Regions from separate parts of the Homo sapiens genome. Here all the other regions are linked to region 2. The links come from fine-mapping of genetic effects on gene expression. A gene starts in region 2. Each other region holds a variant in brackets. All regions are shown on one strand. Distances are from middle to middle.

The links. PIP is the estimated chance that this variant, and not a neighbour inherited with it, causes the effect.
Region 1: its variant is fine-mapped to the expression of CRTAP in whole blood (TOPMed, PIP 0.95).
Region 3: its variant is fine-mapped to the expression of CRTAP in esophagus muscle (GTEx, PIP 0.99). The same link has a PIP of 0.9 or more in transverse colon.
Region 4: its variant is fine-mapped to the expression of CRTAP in whole blood (TOPMed, PIP above 0.99). The same link has a PIP of 0.9 or more in blood mononuclear cells, monocytes and neutrophils.

The regions. Positions count from the first base shown.
Region 1 is chr3:33,063,105-33,068,232 of GRCh38, forward strand. GLB1 (galactosidase beta 1) reads right to left here. Exons shown (of 16, transcript NM_000404.4): 4 at 5,126-5,128; 5 at 2,359-2,453. Among named protein-coding and RNA genes, the nearest start is that of GLB1, 31 kb to the right of the region's middle. The variant A/G (reference allele first, on the strand shown) is at 2,464.
Region 2 is chr3:33,111,679-33,116,827 of GRCh38, forward strand. CRTAP (cartilage associated protein) reads left to right here and starts at 2,336. Exons shown (of 7, transcript NM_006371.5): 1 at 2,336-2,870. The coding sequence starts at 2,400. RefSeq lists enhancers at 1-166, 3,047-4,038 and silencers at 2,166-2,465, 2,906-3,095, 4,622-4,770.
Region 3 is chr3:33,141,167-33,146,315 of GRCh38, forward strand. It overlaps CRTAP (cartilage associated protein), which reads left to right. Exons shown (of 7, transcript NM_006371.5): 7 at 1,229-5,149. The coding sequence ends at 1,282. Among named protein-coding and RNA genes, the nearest start is that of CRTAP, 30 kb to the left of the region's middle. The variant G/A (reference allele first, on the strand shown) is at 2,749.
Region 4 is chr3:33,150,370-33,155,518 of GRCh38, forward strand. It overlaps SUSD5 (sushi domain containing 5), which reads right to left. Exons shown (of 5, transcript NM_015551.2): 5 at 1-3,664. The coding sequence ends at 2,373. Among named protein-coding and RNA genes, the nearest start is that of CRTAP, 39 kb to the left of the region's middle. RefSeq lists an enhancer at 2,446-3,645. The variant T/C (reference allele first, on the strand shown) is at 2,277.

The sequences.
Region 1 (5,128 bases), 49 kb before region 2:
GTGCGTCAGAAGGTAAGTAGGACAACCATGAAAGATGATGAAAGAATTTTGAACGATATGAAAAAGTGCTCATGACAAAGAATGAAGCAAAAAAAGCCACACAGAAAATAGGTCACACAGAATGAACTTACTCTGTAAGAAAGCAGAAAAAAAAGGCATAAAAAATATTCAAGGAAACTCCCAAAATGTGAAGAGCTTTGCTATGGCTCCTGAGGTTTGAGTAACAATTATGTTTTTTCTGCTTTCTTATGTCTATACTTGTTTATTTTGTAAACAAGGGGCAAAAATGATTAGTGGGATTCAAGCATGTGGAGATGGGAAGGGGAGAGGAGGAGGAGGAGGGGGACAGAGTCACCTGGCAGGACCCAGGGTCAAGTTAAAGTCATCTGAGGTTGCTAGGGATGGACACAAGAAGAAATATCTCCACACAGTCAACTTCATTCTCCTTTGCAGAATTAATACTTGATTATACTTTTTGTGGCATTTCCAAAACCAAAAGGGGCAGAAAAGTTGTGAGCAGAAATTGAAAGTGATTCAAGGAGAGGCAGAGACTGAAAAAAAGAGGGCATCAAAAGAGGGTTTGCACCTGAGGCCAGAAGAAAGGAAGAAGACACAGCCATGCAGAGCAAAGACGCACCCAAGTTTCAGACTTGATATCTTCATGTAGGAAAATGTGGTTCCTATTAGCTTAACCAGTACAGACACAAGATGGTAAAAACTAGGGGCACGTGGGGTGACTCACACATCCCTCTGTGAGCAGCAACCTGGCCTCTCTCAAGAAGACATCTCCTCCCACCACAAAGCCTCAGAACGGACACCCTGGCCAGTGCAGCCCTCTCAGCACCTCTGTCCACCGACACCTGAAAGGCAAAGCAGTGCCCATGCTCCCACCCTACTATGATCCATCCCCACAAGCTGCCCATAGTACTGTTCATAAGAAGGAAGCCTGGCCCACACTCCCCTAGGGAGTGCCACTTTGCATCCCTGGGATGTCCAGGATGCAGCCACTTTTACATAACTTTACTCTTTTCCATAAAAGCATCCCTGGTCATAGCTGGGCACGGTGGCTCACGCCTGTAATCCCAGCACTTTGGGAGGCTGAGGTGGGTGAATCACCTGAGGTCAGGAGTTTGAGACCAGCCTGGTCAACATGGTGAAACCCTGTCTCTACTAAAAATACAAAAACATAGCCAGGCATCGTGGTGCACGCCTGTAATGCCAGCTACTTGGGAGGCTGACACAGGAGGGTCGCCTGAACCTGGGAGGCAGAGGTTGCAGTGAGCCGAGATTGTGCCACTGCATTCCAGCCTGGGCGACAGAGCGAGACTCTGTCTCCTAAAAAAAAAAACAAAAAACCTTTACTCTTTTCCATAAGAGCATCCTTGGTCATAGCCGGGCACGGTGGCTCACGCCTGTAATCCCAGCACTTTGGAAGGCCAAGGCGGGCAGATCACCTGAGGTCAGGAGTTTGAGACCAGCCTGGCCAACATGGCGAAACCCCGTCTCTACTAAAAATACAAAAATTAGCCAGGCATGGTGGCATGCGCCTGTAATCCCAGCTACATGGGAGGCTGAGGTGGGAGAATTGCCTGAACTCAGAAGGCAGAGGTTGCAGTAAGCCGAGATTGCCCCACTGCACTCCAGCCTGGGCAACGGAATGAGACTCTCTCTCAAAAAAAAAAAAAAAAAAAAAAGAGCATCCATGGCATCCTTGGTCAATGTCCAATGAACATGGTTTTATGTTTCACCTAAGTAATTTTACCAACACCAAAAACTGTTAAAGTTCAATGTACCCCACAGTATATTAGTCCTTGCAGAGCCAAGAACACATAGAAGAAGGAGAATGGGGCAGGAAGTAAGAGAGGAAACATAACAGCCAGCCCCAATTGACCATATCCTTTTCCATTCCAGGGTTATCTGACTGTCAAGGCAGTGCCGATACCAAAGTGTTTCAGTCCACGCTGCATGCCTGCTGCCAGAAAACAATATTGCAGGAGAAACAGAGAGACAAACTCTGGGATCCACAGAATTAGGGTGCTATCCTAATTCTGCCACCTGCTGGCTGGGTGACCTTAGCCAAGTCACTTAACCTTTTCAAACTTCCTCACTGAAAAAAGAAGGTGGTTGGAAGAATTGAATAGCATTTACAAGGCACCCAGCACAAAGCCTGCCACATAGCAGGCATTCAAAAATGGCAATGCCTTCCCAAATGCAATTGAACTAAAAGCACTATCTGTGGCATTACCTCTTAAAGAAACAGACCTATGAGGCTCATGTCTGCATCACTTCTATCATTTATGTAATGTAGATGGATGGGAACCCCTCCCCCAATCCATCCATGCTCAACTCCAGGGTTACCTGCACTGTTATAACTGGCCCTCCATTCTGATAGAGGAGAGGCTTCATCTTGGGCAGAAGGACTCCCAACCACTTGTCCACAGCTGCCAGGTAATCTGGAAAACA[A/G]GAAAAGTTTAACACAAGCTTGTCCAACCCCAGCCTGTAAGCCACATGCAGCCCAGGATGGCTTTGAATGTGGCCCAACACAAATTCGTAAACTTTTTAAAAACATTCTGAGTTTTCTGGCTGGGTGCGGTGGCTCACGCCTGTAATCCCAGCACTTTGGGAGGCTGAGGCAGGCAGATCACCAGATGTCGGGAGTTCGAGACCAGCCTGACCAACATGGAGAAACCCCATCTCTACTAAAAATGCAAAATTAGCCAGGCTTGGTGGCGCATGCCTGTAATCCCAGCTACTTGGGAGGCTGAGGCAGGAGAATTGCTTGAACCCGGGGGGGCGGAGGTTGCGGTGAGCCAAGATCGCACCATTGCACTCCAGCCTGGGCAACAAGAGTGAAACTCTGTCTCAAAAAAAAAAAAAAAAAAAATTATGATTTAGTACAAAGAGACACCAGTGCAGCCTTATTACACCAGGGCTGGCAGCAGAGATCAGGATATACAGGACTCGACAAGTACCTTCTGAAGTAAAAGTCTCATAAAAGTTGTCCTGCATGTAGTTGTCTCCTCAGCTGAGCTCCTCAGGGGACGAGGACCAGTGTGCCTGTATCCATCTGCTATGGTTGGAATGTTTGTCCCTCTGAAACTCATGTTGAAATCGAATCCCCAATGTGGTAGTATTGAGAGGTGGGGCCTTTAAGAGGTGTTGAGTCATGAGGGCTCAGCCCTCATAAGTAGATCAATCCACTCATGGATTAATAGATTAATAGGTTAATGGATTCATGGGTCATCATGGGAATGGGACTGGTGGCTTTATAAGAAGAGGGAGAGAGATCTGAGCTAGGACACTCAGCCCCCTCACCATGTGATGCCCTGTGCCCCCTCAGGACTCTGCAGAGTCCCCACCAGCAAGAAGGCCCTCACCAGATATAGCCCCTCCACCTTGAACTTCTTGGCCTCCATAACTGTAGGAAATAAATGCTTTTCTTTATAAATTACTCAGTTTCAGGTATTCTGTTACAAGCAACAGAAAACAGACTAAGACCATCCTTGCCACAGGACACAAAGCCTGGAGCATAGAACATATCCAAGCAATGTTTGCTGAATGAAGAAAAGAGTGACTGAACAGTGTATCCTCTTCTCAGTCACAGGAAGGCTTTTTTTCCGTATAAAATGAAGTTCTAATAAATTCTATATTTATATTGTCAAATAGGAATAATAAATGTACATGCCACATAAAGTTGGCATAAAGATTAAATGAGTTACCACAGTGAAAACACCAATAATATGCTAAGCGTGCAAAACATGAAGGTACTGGAGTAAGACAAAGAAAAAAACTATCATTTACACATTGCTCTATAAAAGTGGCCAGAATATAGAAGGCATTGCAGCTACCAAGCAATCCAATGACACCATCCCAGAAACTGTCATTTTGTTTTTATTTCTTTTTTTTTTTTTTTTTGAGACAGAGTTTCGCTCTTGTTGCCCAGGCAGGAATGCAATGGCGCAATCTGGGCTCACTGCAACCTCTGCCTCCCAGCTTCAAGCAATTCTCCTGCCTCAGCCTCCCGAGTAGCTGGGATTACAGGCATGCACCACCACACCCAGCTAATTTTGTATTTTTTAGTAGAGACAGGGTTTCCTCATGTTGGTCAGGCTGGTCTCGAACTCCTGACCTCAGGTGATCCACCCACCTCGGCCTCCCAAAGTGCTGGGATTACAGGCATGAGCCACTACGCCCGACCTTATTTCTTTTTTTGAGACAAAGTCCCTCTCTGTTGCCCAGGATGGAGTGCAGTGGTACAATCATGGCTCACTGCAGTCTCAACCTCCCAGGCTCAAGCAATCCTCCCACCTCAGCCTCCCGGACTACAGGCATGTGCCAGCACACCTGGCTAATTTTTATAGAGATAGGGTCTCGCTATGTTACCTAGGCTGGTATCAAACTCCTGGGCTCAAGCAATCCCTCCACTTTGGCCTCCCAAAGTGCTGAGATTACAAGTGTGAGTCACCATGCCTGACTTGTCATTTTGATTAGCGAGGTGCTATCATTGGCTGTGGAATATGCTAAGTAAATAGGAAGAGAAAGCACTGAAGTCAGTTGGTCAACCGCAAACAGGGTTCAATACCAATTCAAAGAATTACCAGTTTATCAGTAAGATCTGGTTACGTAGTTCAAAGCCTAATTTCCTAGAGGTTTAGTTTGTTGCTATGCACTGGTCAGTGATAAACACTCAGACTTTCACTAAACTTTCAAAAGTATTTGTGCAGAGGTACCCCAGCCTTCAAAATACCTCCCCCTTTTGATATAAATTGTTGAAGCTTTTTTGTTTGTTTGTTTGTTTTGAGACAGAGTCACGCTTTGTCACCCAGGCTATAGTGCATTGATACGATCTCGGTTCACTGCAACTTCCGCCTCCAGGGTTCAAGCAATCCTTCTGCCTCAGCCTCCTGAGTAGCTGGGATTACAGGCGCCCACCACCATGCCCAGCTAATTTTTTGTATTTTTAGTAGGGGCGAGGTTTTGCCATTTTGGCCAGCCTGGTCTCGAACTCCCAACCTCAGGTAATCCACCCGCCTCAGCCTCCCAAAGTGTCAGGATTACAGGCGTGAGCCACCGCACCTAGGCTGAAGCTTTTATAAATCTTCTCAAGACATCTGTAACAACCTACCTG
Region 2 (5,149 bases):
CTCCAGCCTCTGCAGCAGAGCGAGACTCCATCTCAAAACAAAACAAAAAACAAAAAAAAGACTTTATTTTTTAGAGTGGTTTTAGATTCATAGCGAAACTGAGCGGAAACTACAGAGTTCAAATATACTCCATGACCCTACAACATGCGCAAGCTCCCCCACTGTCAATGTCTTGCACTAGAATGGTACATTTGTTACAATCAATGAACCTACATCAACACATCGTTATCACCCAAAGTCCGGTTTACATTAGGGCTCACTCTTAGTGTTGTACATATTATGGATTTTAACAAATGTATAGCATATATCCACCATTATACTATCATATAGAATAGTTTCACTGCTCCAATAATCCTGTCCTCTACCCATTCATTCCTCCCTTTCCATAATTCTCAGCAACCACTGATCCTTTTACTGTCTCCATAGTTTTGCCTTTTCCAGAATGTCATTTGGCTGGAATCACACAGTATGTAGCCTTTTCAGTTTGGCTTCTTTCAACCAGTAATATGCATTTAAGACTTCTCCATGTCTTTTCATGGCTTGATAGCTCATTTCTTTTTGGCTTGGAATAAAATTCCATTGTGTGTATATACCACAGTTTATGTATCCACTTACCCACTGAAGGACATCTTGGTTGATTCCAAGTTATGGTAATTGTGAATAAAGTTGCTACAAACATCCATTCGCAGGTGTGTGCATAAGTTTTAACCCATTTGGGTAAATACCAAGAAGTGCAATTTCTGGATTGTATGAGTAGAGTATGCCTAGTTTTGTAAGAAACGGCCCAACTGTCTTCTAAACTGTATGTACCATTTTGCATTGCCACTATCAATGAATGAGAGTTCCTGTTGCTCCACATCCTTGTCAGCATGTGACGTTGTCAGTGTTTTGGATTTTGTAGTGGTATCTCATTGCTGTTTTGGCCTATATTTTTCAAAAATGACAACGGCATGACAAGAAAAGCCGAGGAACCAGTTTAAAGGATATGAAATAGACTAGATGTAACAGTGATCACGGATGGACTGCATCCTAAGAGAAAAAAGTGCCATGAAAGACATAATTGGAACAGCTGACATAACCGGAAATGGAACATGATTAAAGTCTTCTATCAGTATTAAATTTCCTAAATTTGATTGTCTGGTAGTTTCATTCTTAGGACATACATACTGAAAGACTAAGGGGTTGGGCACGGTGGCTCACGCCTGTAATCCCAGCACTTTGGGAGGCAGAGGCAGGTAGATCACCTAAGGTCAGGAGTTCAAGAACAGCCTGGCCAACATGGCAAAACCTCATCTCTAGTAAAAAATAGAAAAATTAGCCAGGTATGGTGGTGTGTGCCTATGATCCCAGCTACTCGGGAGGCTAAGGCAGGGAGAATTGCTTGAACCCGGGAGGCGGAGGTTGCAGTGAGCCGAGATCGCGCCACTGCACTCCAGCCTGGGTGACAGGGCGAGACTCCGTCTCAAAAAAAAAAAAAGGAAAAAAAAAAAGAAAAAAAAAAGACTAACGGACAGTGGGCCTGATACATGCAACCTATCTCAAATGAGTCAGAAAAAAATGTAAAGATAGAAATGTGGTATAACGTTAGCAACTTGTGAATCTTGATGAAGGGTATATAGGAACTTTTTGTACTGTTTTTGCAGCTTTCTTGTAAATTATTTCAAGATTTAAAAGTTTAAAGATTTTTTAAAAGTGCTGCCATTAACATTCCATCCATATTTTTTGATGCACACGCGCAAGCTTCTCCAGCATATTCCACCGAATGGTGTTGCAGATTCATAAGGTGTGCACATCTTCAACCTGACTAGCTATACAGTTTACAAAGTGCTGACATCCTTATTAATTTTATTTTTGCACTGTCTTTTTCTCTCACTAAAATTTAAGGTTGGGCAGTGCTATTAAAAGTGCGGCCCTTGGGCCCGCAGCATTAGCCTCATCAGGGTGCTGGTTAAACACACAAATCGTCAGACCTCCACCCCAGACTTTCTGAATCAGAAACTCTGGGGGCACAGCCCAGGAATCTTCGTTTTCACAAACCTCCAAACGAATATAAAGATCGTAGATTATATAGACCGTAGGGCCGATGTATATAATCTATTAGGGCCGCGTCGGCCTTGCAGGCGGGTCTCCAAGTGAATGAGCGGCAGAGTCCCATCATGCGCATCAGCCTGCGTGAACCAGTGCGCAGCGCGCCTTTCCCGGGCACCCTCTAGGTGCTGGCAGCTGGCGCCCAGATCCCCCGGCTGGGTGGGGAGGGGCGGCCGGACGGGGCGGGCCGGAGGCTGGCGTCCCCGCCCCGAAAGCACTGGGCCCGCCGCGTCGCACCGTCCTCTTTCCTTTCCTTCTCCCTCCCCTTTTCCCTTCCTTCGTCCCTTCCTTCCTTCCTTTCGCCGGGCGCGATGGAGCCGGGGCGCCGGGGGGCCGCGGCGCTGCTAGCGCTGCTGTGCGTGGCCTGCGCGCTGCGCGCCGGGCGCGCCCAATACGAACGCTACAGCTTCCGCAGCTTCCCACGGGACGAGCTGATGCCGCTCGAGTCGGCCTACCGGCACGCGCTGGACAAGTACAGCGGCGAGCACTGGGCCGAGAGCGTGGGCTACCTGGAGATCAGCCTGCGGCTGCACCGCTTGCTGCGCGACAGCGAGGCCTTCTGCCACCGCAACTGCAGCGCCGCGCCGCAGCCCGAGCCCGCCGCCGGCCTCGCCAGCTATCCCGAGCTGCGCCTCTTCGGGGGCCTGCTGCGCCGCGCGCACTGCCTCAAGCGCTGCAAGCAGGGCCTGCCAGCCTTCCGCCAGTCCCAGCCCAGCCGCGAGGTGCTGGCGGACTTCCAGCGCCGCGAGCCCTACAAGTTCCTGCAGTTCGCTTACTTCAAGGCAAGTCCGCCTCGCCCCGTCCCAGGCCCCGGCCCCGCCCCTGACCCAGCCTCCAGGCCCTAGCCCCGCCCCTGCGCCCGGGGCCGCGTTGCCCCTCCAGTTCTAGACCTGGCTCCCTCCCATCCAGCCCTGCCAAAGGTCTCCTCCAAGTCCTGTCTCCTTCTTCATCTCAACTAGAGATGAAAATGCCTTTCTTGAAGGGTAACTCTAAGGTAGAGAATACGTACACAGAACGCAGTACAGCGCCAGGCACCCAACAAAGTGCCTGATAAATGTTCTCTGTTATTTGAGGGCAGACGCCTCTTTTCTGTATATACCATTAAAGTCGCCTTTTTTCTCAAGTGAGCGGTGACTTGCGATAATAAAGCAGAAGACCTGAGGAGCCGACAAGTACCTTTTATTTTTATTTTTTGTTGAGACAGGGTCTCACAGTCGCCCAGGCTGGAGTGCAGAGGCGCTATCATGGCTCACTGCAGCCTTGACCTCCTCAGGCTCAGGTGATCCTCCACCTCAGCCTCCTGAGTAGCTGGGATTATAGGCGCGCGCCACCACACCTAGCTAATTTTTTGGTATTTTCTGTAGAGACAGAGTTTCGCCACGTTGCCCAGGCTGATCTCGAACTCCCGGACTCAAGTGATCCTCCCACCTCGCCTCCCAGAGTTCTGGGATTACAGTCGTGAGCCATTGCACCCAGCTGACTAGTTCCTTTTAAAGAGGATGAAATTGAGGCCAGGGAAGGGCAGGGACTCCTTGCAAGGACACATCCCTGCTTAAAGGGGAACTCGTGCACCGTGAGTCATCAGGATTGGCCCTCTCCGCTGTTTCTCTCTTTCATCTAGAATTTAACACAGTTCACTGCCTCCTTTTAATGGCTGCTTAAGTTCTCTCTGTGATTGCTGGCTAAAAATAGCCACAAATTGCAGTTCTCTATCCTATGGGTTCTCACTCCGAGGACCCACAAGTTTTAAGAATGGTTAGATTCCCTGTCACTAGATAAAGAGGCTCTAGCTTGGTGGGTCCTCACAGGGTTTGGCTAAAAGAGCCCTCTCAAAGCCCAGTTTCTACTTTCTCTGAGAAAGATTTTAAAAGGAATATATTGTGTTTTTTAAAATTACTACAAAAATAGATTCATGGCATATCCTAGACTCTTGAGGTAGAAGGTTTTTGTTTTTAAACTTTGTTTTCAGTTTCTGGACTGCAAGATCTGTTTTTTCAGATTTCCACCGAGACAGAGCCACGTGTATATTGTATTTATATGAGCAATAAAATAACACAAAACCCCAAAGAGGGGAAAAGCTGGGTTACTTCTATACTTCTATGCTTAGTTACAGTTTTATTTAAAGTATCAGTTTTGTGAATGTTTGTTCTGGCAATTAAAAAAAAACAGTTTTAAAACAGAAGCAGGGAATGAGATTAATAAAATTCCAGAATGTTGAAAATGAGGGCTGGTTCATACAAAGCATCATTTTTTAAGCTAAAAATGACTTATCTAATTCTTTTTTTGTATAGCTTTTGGCAAATATGTTCTGAACCAAATTTAGGTCACATAATCAAGAGGAAATCATTTTATTTTTAAACCTAGAGAATACTAGAACCTCTGATTTCTTTAATATACAGATGAATTTGAACAAGTGTTACAGGGAAGAGGGGAAGAACATTTTACTCAATGTGACCAAAAGGCATGGGTTTTCTCTTTCATCATGGTGGCCCCAAAAGGTTAGGATGGTCATAGCTTCTCTTCAAAACCCTTTACAGGTCTTGTAACAATCACTTAGTTGAAAGTCAGTAAAATACTATCTATCTATCTGTCTATCTATCTGTTTTTTTTGAGACACAGTTTCACTTTGTCACCCAGACTGGAATGCAGTGGCACGATCTCAGCTCGCTGCAACCTCTGCCTCCAGGGTGCAAGCAATTCTTGTATCTCAGCCTCCTGAGTAGCTGGGATTACGGGCATGTGCCACCACACCCAGCTAATTTTTGTATTTTTAGTAGAGATGGGGTTTCACCATGTTGGCCAGGCTGGTCTCGAACTTCTAACCTCAAGTGATCCACCTACCTTGGCCTCCCAAAATGCTGAGATTACAGTCTGGGATTTGAACCACCATGCCCGGCCACCATCTTAACATTTTGAGATCTCATATAGGGCAGGAAAAAGCTAAGAATTTTATTAATAAACGTGAATGTTACTTAATTGTTTCAATGGAAGATATAACTGAAAAAGTAATTTTTGGTGGAGATATTGTATGGTGTATTTTTTCTCAATGATGTTTATGGCT
Region 3 (5,149 bases), 29 kb after region 2:
ATGCATTTCTTTCGTCTGTGCTGCCTCGGGCACTTATTACTAGTGAGCTAAAAGCAAACAATACCATCATCCCGCAAGTCACAACAGACACACAGCAGGATATAGTAACTCCCTAAGCAGAAGTCATAGCTATACACATAATCCCTCTACTATGCTGTGTTTTCCTTTTGGGGTCTAGAAAGCAACTGAAAAACAATTTTTCCAAGCTGTAGTGTCTACAGTTTGAGTTTCTAATCTCAGGCATGACATAGTAGAAGTATTTGATGATAATACTAAGACCCCCCATTTGTGTCTCATGTACTTGATAGGTTTTCCAGTTATTCCCAAATGCTGCAAGATTTTTATAAATTTCTCTGTGTTAAAACATCAAAAGGAGCCAACAGGCTCTTGGCCTGGGATGGTGAGCTCAGTGAAGGAGGTCGAGTTTTAGCAGGGTTGGTGGGGCCAGTCTGTGTTGACTCTTATGGAAGGGGCCTCAGCCTTGGTCATTCACTCATTCTCTGCAGAAAAGAGAATGGGTGTCATCAGCTGGTGGTCCAGGAGGGTTATAGAAGAGAAGTCAATGTGGAGAAAGAAATTGGGAAGGGTGCTGGGCTGCTTCAAGTTGAAGTATAAGGCTGATTGCAGAAGGAGGGAGCAGGTGAGCTCCTGGTACCGACACTGGGCAAGTGGATCCCACTATCCCTGTGTGTCTCTCCTGTAAGAGGAGTGATTGCTTCAGTCACACCAGCAGTATGTATGCAAGCACTCAATCATTCATCCTTCAACACATGTATTGAGCACCTTCTGTGTGCTGGACTCTGGGGAAGAAAAATCAACCCAGTCCCCTGGTCCTTGAGAAGTTTGGGTTCTGGTGGTCAAGGCAGAAAGGGAACAGATAGAAAATGTTCCTGTGGGAGACCTGCACACATGAGAGGGGAGGAAGGGGAGTAGGCAGAGATGCACACAGGAGGGCCACTTAGTAGAGCTGTTCACAGGCTGGGCTGTCCGCCTCACACAGCATGTTGGCGGATCTCGCAGAGCACTTGATACCAAGTTCAAATGGAGTGGAAGCCGAGGTCCCCTCCACAGGGAGAAATCAGGTCCTCTGGGCCCCAGACCAGCAGAAAAAACCTGTTTCAGCCAAAGCAGACAGTGGTGATGGCCTCTCGGGATACTGTTTCTGCTCATCAGTACTTTTAAAAGTCCAATAGCCCATTTAATAAAGTTGTCCTGTTGTCTCTTACAGGGAGAAGTTGTGGAATATGTGGATGACCTCTTGGAACTGGAGGAGACCAGCTAGCCCACAGCAACCAAAGAGACTTCCTCTTGGCGTTCAGGAAACACAGATTCTTTGTCCTTTTCCCAACAGCCCAGGCTGTTGATACCTCAGAGCCTTCTCTTTACTCTCCAAAGTGAAAGGGAAGCCCCCGTCTCTCTAACTGCATGTCATCAGGGGTGAGCCTGCCTTTCCTATCTTCACACCTGCCACCTCATGTTCACACCTATCTTTCTCACCTTTTTTTTGAGATGGAGTCTCGCTCTCTTGCCCAGGCTGGAGTGCAATGGCACGTTCTCAGCTCACTGCAACCTCCGCCTCTTGGGTTCAAGCAATTCTGCTGCATCAGCCTCCCGAGTACCTGGGATTACAGGCATGTGCCACCACGCCCGGCTAATTTTGTATTTTTAGTAGAGACGGGGTTTTGCCATGTTGGCCAGGCTGGTCTCGAACTCTTGACTTCAGATGATCCATCTGCCTTGGCCTCCCACAGTGCTGGGATTACAGGCGTGAGCCACCATGCCCGGCCTCTTTCTCACCTTTACACCTGTCTTCTTATCCTCACATCTGTTTTCACACCTTCATCCCTGTCTTCCTCATGTTCACACTTGTCTTCCCCATGTTCATAGCTGCCTTTCTTACCATTTTGGTTTGAAGGGCAGTCTTCTCTGGCTTGTTTTTTTGTTTTTCCCAGAAAATCAGTATTATTTTTTAAATAAGAAAAACATTCCTAGAAGATGATAATTGTGAAAACCTCCTTTGGCTTATTTGCTTTTCCAGATTTTAGTCTCCTTTCTCCCCATCCGGGAAAGATGGTGGAAGACATAGGCTAAATTTCTCCAGCCTCACAATGGTCTTCACTTGGTCTGACTTGTACCAATTCTAGCACCCACTGAAAAACAAGTTGAGTAGAGAGTGTAGAGTGCAGAAATGTGGCTTTTGCCCCACTTTGCATCTCCAAAATTACAACGGTTGGCCGATCCCATTTGAGGACAATGCTTAGTTATAAGTCTCCGAGTTGGAAAAGGAAGAAAGCCAGAGCTGTCTAGTTTCATTCATTCTTTCAGTAAATATTTATTGAGTACCTACTGTGTGCTAGGCATTGACCTGGGAACTAGAGATACTTCACAGAATAACAGGGAAAGTTCCCTGTGCTCATGGAGCTTACATTCTACAGGGAGAAAGAGATAGCCAATACATAGGAATAAATATATACAAGGTATCATGTAGTGATAATTGCTGTGGAGAAAAATAAAGCAGGGGAGGGAGTAAGAAATCCTGGAGATGAGGCTGCAGTTTTAAATGGGGCCTCACTGGGAATGTGACGTTGAGCAGAGACGTTAGGGAAGTGGATCCTGGACAAGGCATTCCAGGCAGAGGAACAGGATGTGCACTGCCCCAAAGTGAGAACTTGCTCTACGTGGTCAGGAAAGAGCAGGGAGACCAAGCAGAGTCGTGGGCAGGGGTAGAATGGAAGGAGAGGCGGCTGG[G/A]GAGGACAGGTGGTGGAGGGCCTTGGCTTCTGCTAAGTGAGATGGGAACCACTGGAGGGTTTGAACAGAGGAGTGCCTTGATTGATTTATATTTTGCAAGGGTCATTCTAGCTGCCATATTGTGAAAAACTTTAGTGGACAAGGGCAGAAGGAAGAGGGAAGACCTGTTAGGAAGCTACTGCAAGGTTCCAGGCTTGGGCCTGGGCCACAGCAACAGCAGTGGTCAAATATCTAGATTTATTTTGAAAAGAGCCAATAGGATTTGCTGAGAGTTTGAATGTGGAGTGTAAGAGAAGGAAGAGTTAATGATGACATTAAGGTTTTTGGCCTGAATAGCAGGAAAGATGGAGTTACCAGTTACTGAAATAGGGAAGGATGGGCTGGGTAAGTATGGAATTTGGTGCAAAGCAGGCTGTCTGTGGTTGGAATGGGAGGTTCTGGCTGCAAATCAAAGTGGAGAGTTCTCTCAGGTCAGGTCTGCAGCAGAGCTCGAGACAGGGATCTGAATGCACTTGGTTTATTGTTGGGGGTGCTCTCAGAAGGAACCTGTGAAAGCCTTTATCAGTCATTTATTGGCTGTGAGAAGTTCTCTGGGAGTGTGGGTACATTTGAAGGCAAGTGACTTCAGTTGAGGGCAAGTCTCTGGAAAAGAGGCTGTAGGCATCTGGCAGCTACCATGCATGGTAGTGTGTTGGGGGTGGGGGTCCTGGGCACTGGCTGTGTGAAGGGATCTGGCAGGGCACCACAGCGCCCCCTACTGAACCATCAGCATGTCAGTGGCATTTAAAGCCATGCAGCTGGAGGGGCCACTGAGATTGTCTCTGAGTATTACTGAGAAGCAACAGAAAAGAGCCATGGATGGAGCCCTTGGGCTCTCTGGGAAATGGGAAATCAGCCAAAGGACTGAGAAGGAGTTACCTTAAGGTCAGAGAAAACCAAGAGAGTGTGGTGTTCTGGAAGCTGAGCTTTCTTTATTCAACCTCATTCCCTTCTCCAAATAAGCCACTTGTGTAGTTGGGCCCCTCCAGGGTTGAAGGCAAGAGGAGAAAGGCACAGCGTTTGGGAAACAAGACTTTTCCTGCAATAGCCTGGGAAGGAATAAAAGGATAGAGTGTTTGGGTTTTTGTGTAATGGTGGTTAATTGGGGTGGAACACTCACACGTTGTGCTTTTTCTGGGCTTCCCTTATCCCCCAGAACACTCTACCAACCTCGGGGAACTCGGGCACATCCTTCTGTTTCTCCTTCAGCTCTATCCTGCTTTCCTCATCCCTTCTGACACCACGTCCTCACTCACCTGCACAAGAATCCCTGCATCAGGTTCTCCTTTGAGGGTACCCACCCAGGACAGTCCCCTACCACTTCTGTCTTGGGCTGAAGTTGCCCACGTCCACAAAATCTGTACTCCCAGCGGGGGTGTTTGGCCCGAGGAGTCAGTGTTATTACTGGTGGATGCACCGTGTCCACAGCAGCCCCCAATCCCAGCGATGCGTCAGATCTTACGTGGCTTCCTGCTGGGGGAGATGGCCTTCACCCACGGGATGCCGGGTTCTCCTTTCTTTCCTCACCCCAACCTTTACTCCACCAGAGAAACTTCCTTTTGAACTCAGTGGGGAAGAGGGTGATGAGACAGGACTAGAAAGTAGTGGGGGACCCAGCGAGTGGACGCCCTGCTCCGGGATTCCTGAGTCTGTAAATAGTGTGCCCAGCAGCTGTGAACTCCCCTTATAGCCTCAGGCTGCAGTGTCCTTCCCAGCTGTGTGAGAAAATGAAAGCCGACGTCCACAGGGACCCAGGCAGGGTTGGGTGTTGTGACTCACTCCACCTCTGTGCCCTGCAGAGGTACTGTTGGGTCCTTGTCTTGTGAGCCTGGGGTGAGCTCTCTGTACATGTTGTTGTTCCACGTATGGGTTGACTTGGCATGCTGGGGGGTCCTCGTTCACTCTCTGAAGTTGGCCTCCTTTCACTGGGGATTGAAAAGCACCTCCACCCCTACCCTAGTGATGTCCCCTGAGGACCCGGGTGATAGTACAGTCAATATTGTCAGTACTTTGCTTTGATTGAAGGCTGTAGAGCTGAGTTACCAAAATTTCTATTTCAAAGGAAACCAAACCTTAAAAAAAAAAAACAAAAACTGGGCTGGGTCTTCCAAACCTACCATGAAACCCTGGTGTGCAGGCTGCACTCAATGACCTCAACCCAACACCTCCCTGAGTGTGCTTCTTGGAAGAGCCTAGAAGATTCCTGGATGGAGACCCCATTGGTTCAGCCTCAAGTCTGGCCCGTCTTCGAAAAAACAAACACATTTGTAAGCTTTGTGGGAGCTTCCAGGCCTGCTCTAAGATGCCTTGCTTGTCCTTTGACCCATCAGCATGGAGCTCAGTGGTTGCTGTTTGGTTCTGC
Region 4 (5,149 bases), 39 kb after region 2:
TTAATACACTGTATTAATATTGCCTATTTGTTGGTATAAATCCAATGTTCTGGGTTATTCCACAATAATAGTTGCTAACACAGTCCCAATGCTGAGACAGAGGTTATTTTATATAGTTAAAAATAGAAAAGTTATCTTGCAGTAGATTAGGATCTAATTTATAAATATATACAGTCTCTGGCTTTTATTCTATTATGTTTTGCTTTGGCTACATGCAGAAAGCATTTTATTCCTATTGTTCTTGACTTCGTCTGATGCACAGGTATTCTAGTTGGTACCTTCAGGCTTTATTTTACCCAACTATGGGGAATAAGATCTTTGATTATGCTGCCTCTCTTTACAGCTACTTCGCCTATTACTTTTCCAAAGCTTGCTGAAAAGAGGTGGCAGGGTAGAAAACATGTTGCGAATGTTTTTTTTCCTTAGGTAAAACACCACCAACAATTTTTCAATCATAAAAAAGATCAGGATTTCCCTCTACCACACAAAAACACTTAGACTGCTATGGTGTCTCAAAATAAATGTGTTGCATTCATCACTTTTTACCACTGATAACTATTTCTAAGAAGGTGATTCATATTAGAAAAATATAACATGTTTCATTTCTGTGCCAACATACAGGAGACTATTGCAGGTGGCATTTAGGCAGCTTCAAATGCCACCTCAGCTGCACACAGCCATGCCTGACTTCCACACAACACACACCACATACTCATCTGTGCCTTTAGGGCTTCAGCTGGCCTCGAAGTTCACATTTGAGATTATTATAAACCAACAGGCTCTCAAACTTGAGTGCATATCAAAATCACCTGGAGGGCTTGTTAAAAACAGAACTGGGCCCTACTCCCAGGGTTCCTGTTTCCTGAGTCCAGGGTGGGACTAGAGAATTTGCATCTCCAACAAATTCCCAGGTGACGCTGATGCTACTGGTCTGAGGACCACACTTTGAGAACCACTGCCATAAACCATCCTCGCTGAGCCACCCTAAGATGATTTAGATGCTACGAAATGGGTTACCCAACAGACAGGATGGATTCTGTTTCCACAGAGCTCCCAGTTTCCACACTAGAGAACAGATCAGCACAGATCATTTCATATTCTTTCACAGATTCTTCTGCTTCTCCATCAAGTATGTGCCCATACTTGATAACCTGGTGTTCGGCCCTCTGAAAACATTTCTTTTTTTTTTCTCCCGTGTCATTCTCTCTTACTGGAGTTCAGAGAAATGGTTAATCCTGAGAGAGGAAACCAAGGACTGAGTTTTGTTAGTCCTGGCAAAAATTCCAAGACATTCCTAGGCACAGACTGGTCAAGGACAACTAGGCCACTGCTTCTGAGAGGAAATGGTACTTACTGGTACAAAGCTAACTTTGTTTTTAAAAAATAATGGCAAATCCTTAACCATGAAATATTGAAAATAAAATAAAATAAATGACAGACTGTCCCACAGAATGGAGGGAACAGAGGGGGATGTGTGTTTCTTCACTCCTCAACTCCCCCAACAAAATGTCAGTCTTAAATTCTAATTTCAAGAAACAATGAAAAAAGAAACCTCAAAGCTTCTAGACTGTGTCCTGGCTCTTGGTTCATCTGCCCTCAGCAACATCACAACATTAAAAGGAAACAACCCATTATTCTTCCATATTCCTCTCCCAATAATTCAATATCCATGTCCTAGATAATACTGCTCTCATACACTTGGTTTATCATGACTATTTATAAAATTTCAGGGCATGAAGCTGGTGATTTTCTTTCTTCAAAAAGGTAATACTGTGATGTGGCTCACACCTGGAATCCTAGCACTTTGGGAGGCTAAGGAGGGCAGATCACTTGAGGTCAGGAGTTCTTGACCAGCCTGGCCAACATGGTGAAACTCCATCTCTACTAAAAATATAAAAAAATTAGCTGGGCATGGTGGTGCATGCCTGTAATCCCACCTACTTGGGAGGCTGAGGCAGGAGAATTGCTTGAACTTGGGAGGCAGAGGTTGCAGTGAGCTCAGATCGGGACACTGCACTCCAGCCTGGGCAACAGCATGAGACTCTGTCTCAAAAAAAAAAAGATAATACTGTGATGAAGGAAGAGGCGATTTTTGACCTCACACTGGAAACAGGGCCCAAGCACAGGTCTGGGATTAGTGTAGTCAATTCCAGGGCAGATGGTGGAGGAGACATTGACATGAGTGATGATGTCACCAAAGCCTCCCTGCCCTCCCAGGTGCTCCAGAGACACTTCTCAGCCTATAAAACAAAGGGCTGAGGAAAAAATGATGAGCC[T/C]CAGTCCACCTGCGTCATGCTCTAGTGAATTATCGTGTGATGTGTCACAGTTATTTTCCTCCCAAGTGGCTTTGGGAGAACCCACTCCAAAGGTGCCTAGACCTTCTCCATCTCGATCTGCTGGTGGTAGTGCCGAGCCTGCCGCTGGCCAACATTCAGCTTGTACACAGAGCTCTTGTGCTGGCACTTGCGGTAGCCCCACACCATCCCCACACCTGCCAGGAGCAGCAGTAGGCACAGGACGGTGACAATGGTGGCGATCACAGGGCCTCTGCTGAGGCCAGGACATCCGTCCCCCACACACGACTCCAAGGTGGGATGAAGCTCCTCACTTGCACCTGGCCCGGGGCCTTCCTGTCCAAAGAAGTCTTCAGACAGCAGGTATGGGAAGCTATCCTGGATCTCAGGAACAGTGGTTTCTACTGGAGGCTGGGTGGTTGCCATGATCGTTGAGGGGATGTGGTTAGGTGTCTGCTTGACAGTGTTCACTGTTAATATCTCCAGGGTGGAGCTGGTGAGCTCATAGGACAGGGTGGCCATGGGAGATTCCTCTGTGATGAATCTCCAGGGTAGAGTTGACTGGTACTTCGTCAAGTCACCATCCCCAATGCCCTCAGTCTCGGAAGCATTCACGGGTCTGAGCGCCAAAGCTTCCACATCTAGCATTTGAGATGGAAGAACTGAACTATGGGTCATGCCCTCGCTTGGTGTGAGGGTGCTACTCTTGGGCTTCTTAACTTCCACAAGAATGGGCTGATCAGGAGTAACTAGGACGTTTTCATCCAGCCCTACTGACCCATCCCCTCTGTCCCCATCTTCTTCCTCTTCTGCCTCTGTCTTCCTCCAAGCCCCCTCTGTCACAGGGTAGCCATCTAACCAGGACTCATCACTGCTGCTCACCACTGGATCTCCTGCCTTGCTGTCATTCTTGCCCACAAATGGCCCCGAGGGACCATCAGTGTTGCCGTAGATCACCTTGGTTTCAGGTTCACCTGGGACCAATTTTACACCACTGTGGTTGTCTCCAGCAGAAAACTGCTTTTTGGTGTCATCATCCACCTCCTTTTCCAACCCAGGCTTGTGGAAAGCCTCAGCAGGAAACCAGAACAAGTGCTTCTGGAGCAGCCGTGATCCTGGTGAATCTGCGGGGACACTGCTCCCAGCACCAGGCAAGCCTGTGGTTGGCACAAAGACTTTATCCCGGGCTATGTTTTCTCTCCCCACAGAAATGGAGACCAGACGGTCCTGTTTTGGAGCCTCCTCAGAGGAGTCTCCCTGACCCCTGTCCTCATCTGCCTCTGTCCGGGAATCCTCCATGAGCTCTCTGAATGACACAGATCTGTCATCAGGGAAGTTATCTTCATAGTCAATGTGTGCCTCAGCCTCATCTGGAAGAAAAGAGGGAAAAAACCTCATTAGCTCCAAAGGCACAGAGCCAGTATAGAACATAAGAAAAGGAAATTAAAAGCATAAAGGCTGGGACAGAATAAATAATACTGTTATTATTCACAGATGATATGACTGTGTATCATAGATAAACCCAAATAATCTACATATGAATATTACAAGTAACTAAAATTTAACATCTGAGCTTAGGCCGGGCATGGTGGCTCACACTTGTAATCCCAGCACTTTGGGAGGCCTAGGCAGGTGGATCACTTGAAGCCAGGAGTTCGAGACCAGCCTGGCCAACATGGCGAATGCCCATCTCTAATAAAATACAAAAAAATAGCCAGGCATGGTGGCATATGCCTGTAATCCCAGCTACTCAGGAGGATGAGACATGAGAATCGCTTGAACCCGGAAGGCGGACGTTGCAGTGAGCCAACATCGTACCACTGCACTCCAGCCTGGGTGACAGAGTGAGACTCAAAAACAACAACAACAAAAACAACAACTCAAAAACAACAACAACAAAAAACATGTGAGTTTATTAGGGATACTAGGTCTACAGTAAATATAAACATCAATTGTATTTCTAAATATTGTCAATAAACAGAAAATTAAAATTTAAAAGGATGCTATTTACAATAACATTAAAAAAACCAAACACATAGGAATAAATCTAACAAAAGATGTTCAAGACTTCTACATGGAATGATATAAGACATTGCTAAGCAAAATTAAAGAAGACTTAAATGAATGGAGGAATAGACCATGATCATGTAGTAGAAGGCTCAAGATCATTAAGTTGGCAATTCTGTCCAAATCGATCTATACAGATCTAATACAATTCCAATAAAAATCTCAGACATTAACTGAATGTTAAAGTTTATGGAAATGCAATGGATGGAAGTTTATGGAAATGCAATGTAAGAATAGACAAGGCGATATTGAAAAAGAAAAAGCCGGAAGACATATGCAAAACATTTCAAGATTTACTATAAAACTGCATTACCTTTTAAGGCTGTGGTATTGGCACAAGGACAGATAACTGGATTACATTAAAATGAAGATCCTCTGTTCATTAAAAGCTACCACAAAGAGAGTTAAAATGCAAGGCAGAGTTAGAGAAGCTATCTGCAACACATATGACCTCCAAAGGGCTTGTATCCAGAATTTAAAAAGGACTCCCACAAATCTATACTAAGTAGACAGACAAACCATAGAAAAATTGGCAAGATAGTTGACTTGGGACATCACCAGAAAGATATCAGATTAGTCATTAAACATGTGGAAAGATGCTCAACCTCACTAGTAAGAGAGAAATGTTAATTATAGTCATAATGAGATACCACTGCATAGCACCAGAATGGCTAAAATTAAACAGACCGACAATATCAAATGTTAACTAGGATATACAGCACTGTTAGTGGGAGTGTGAACTGGAACAACCACGATGGAAAACTGGGCATCTCTACTAAAATTGAACA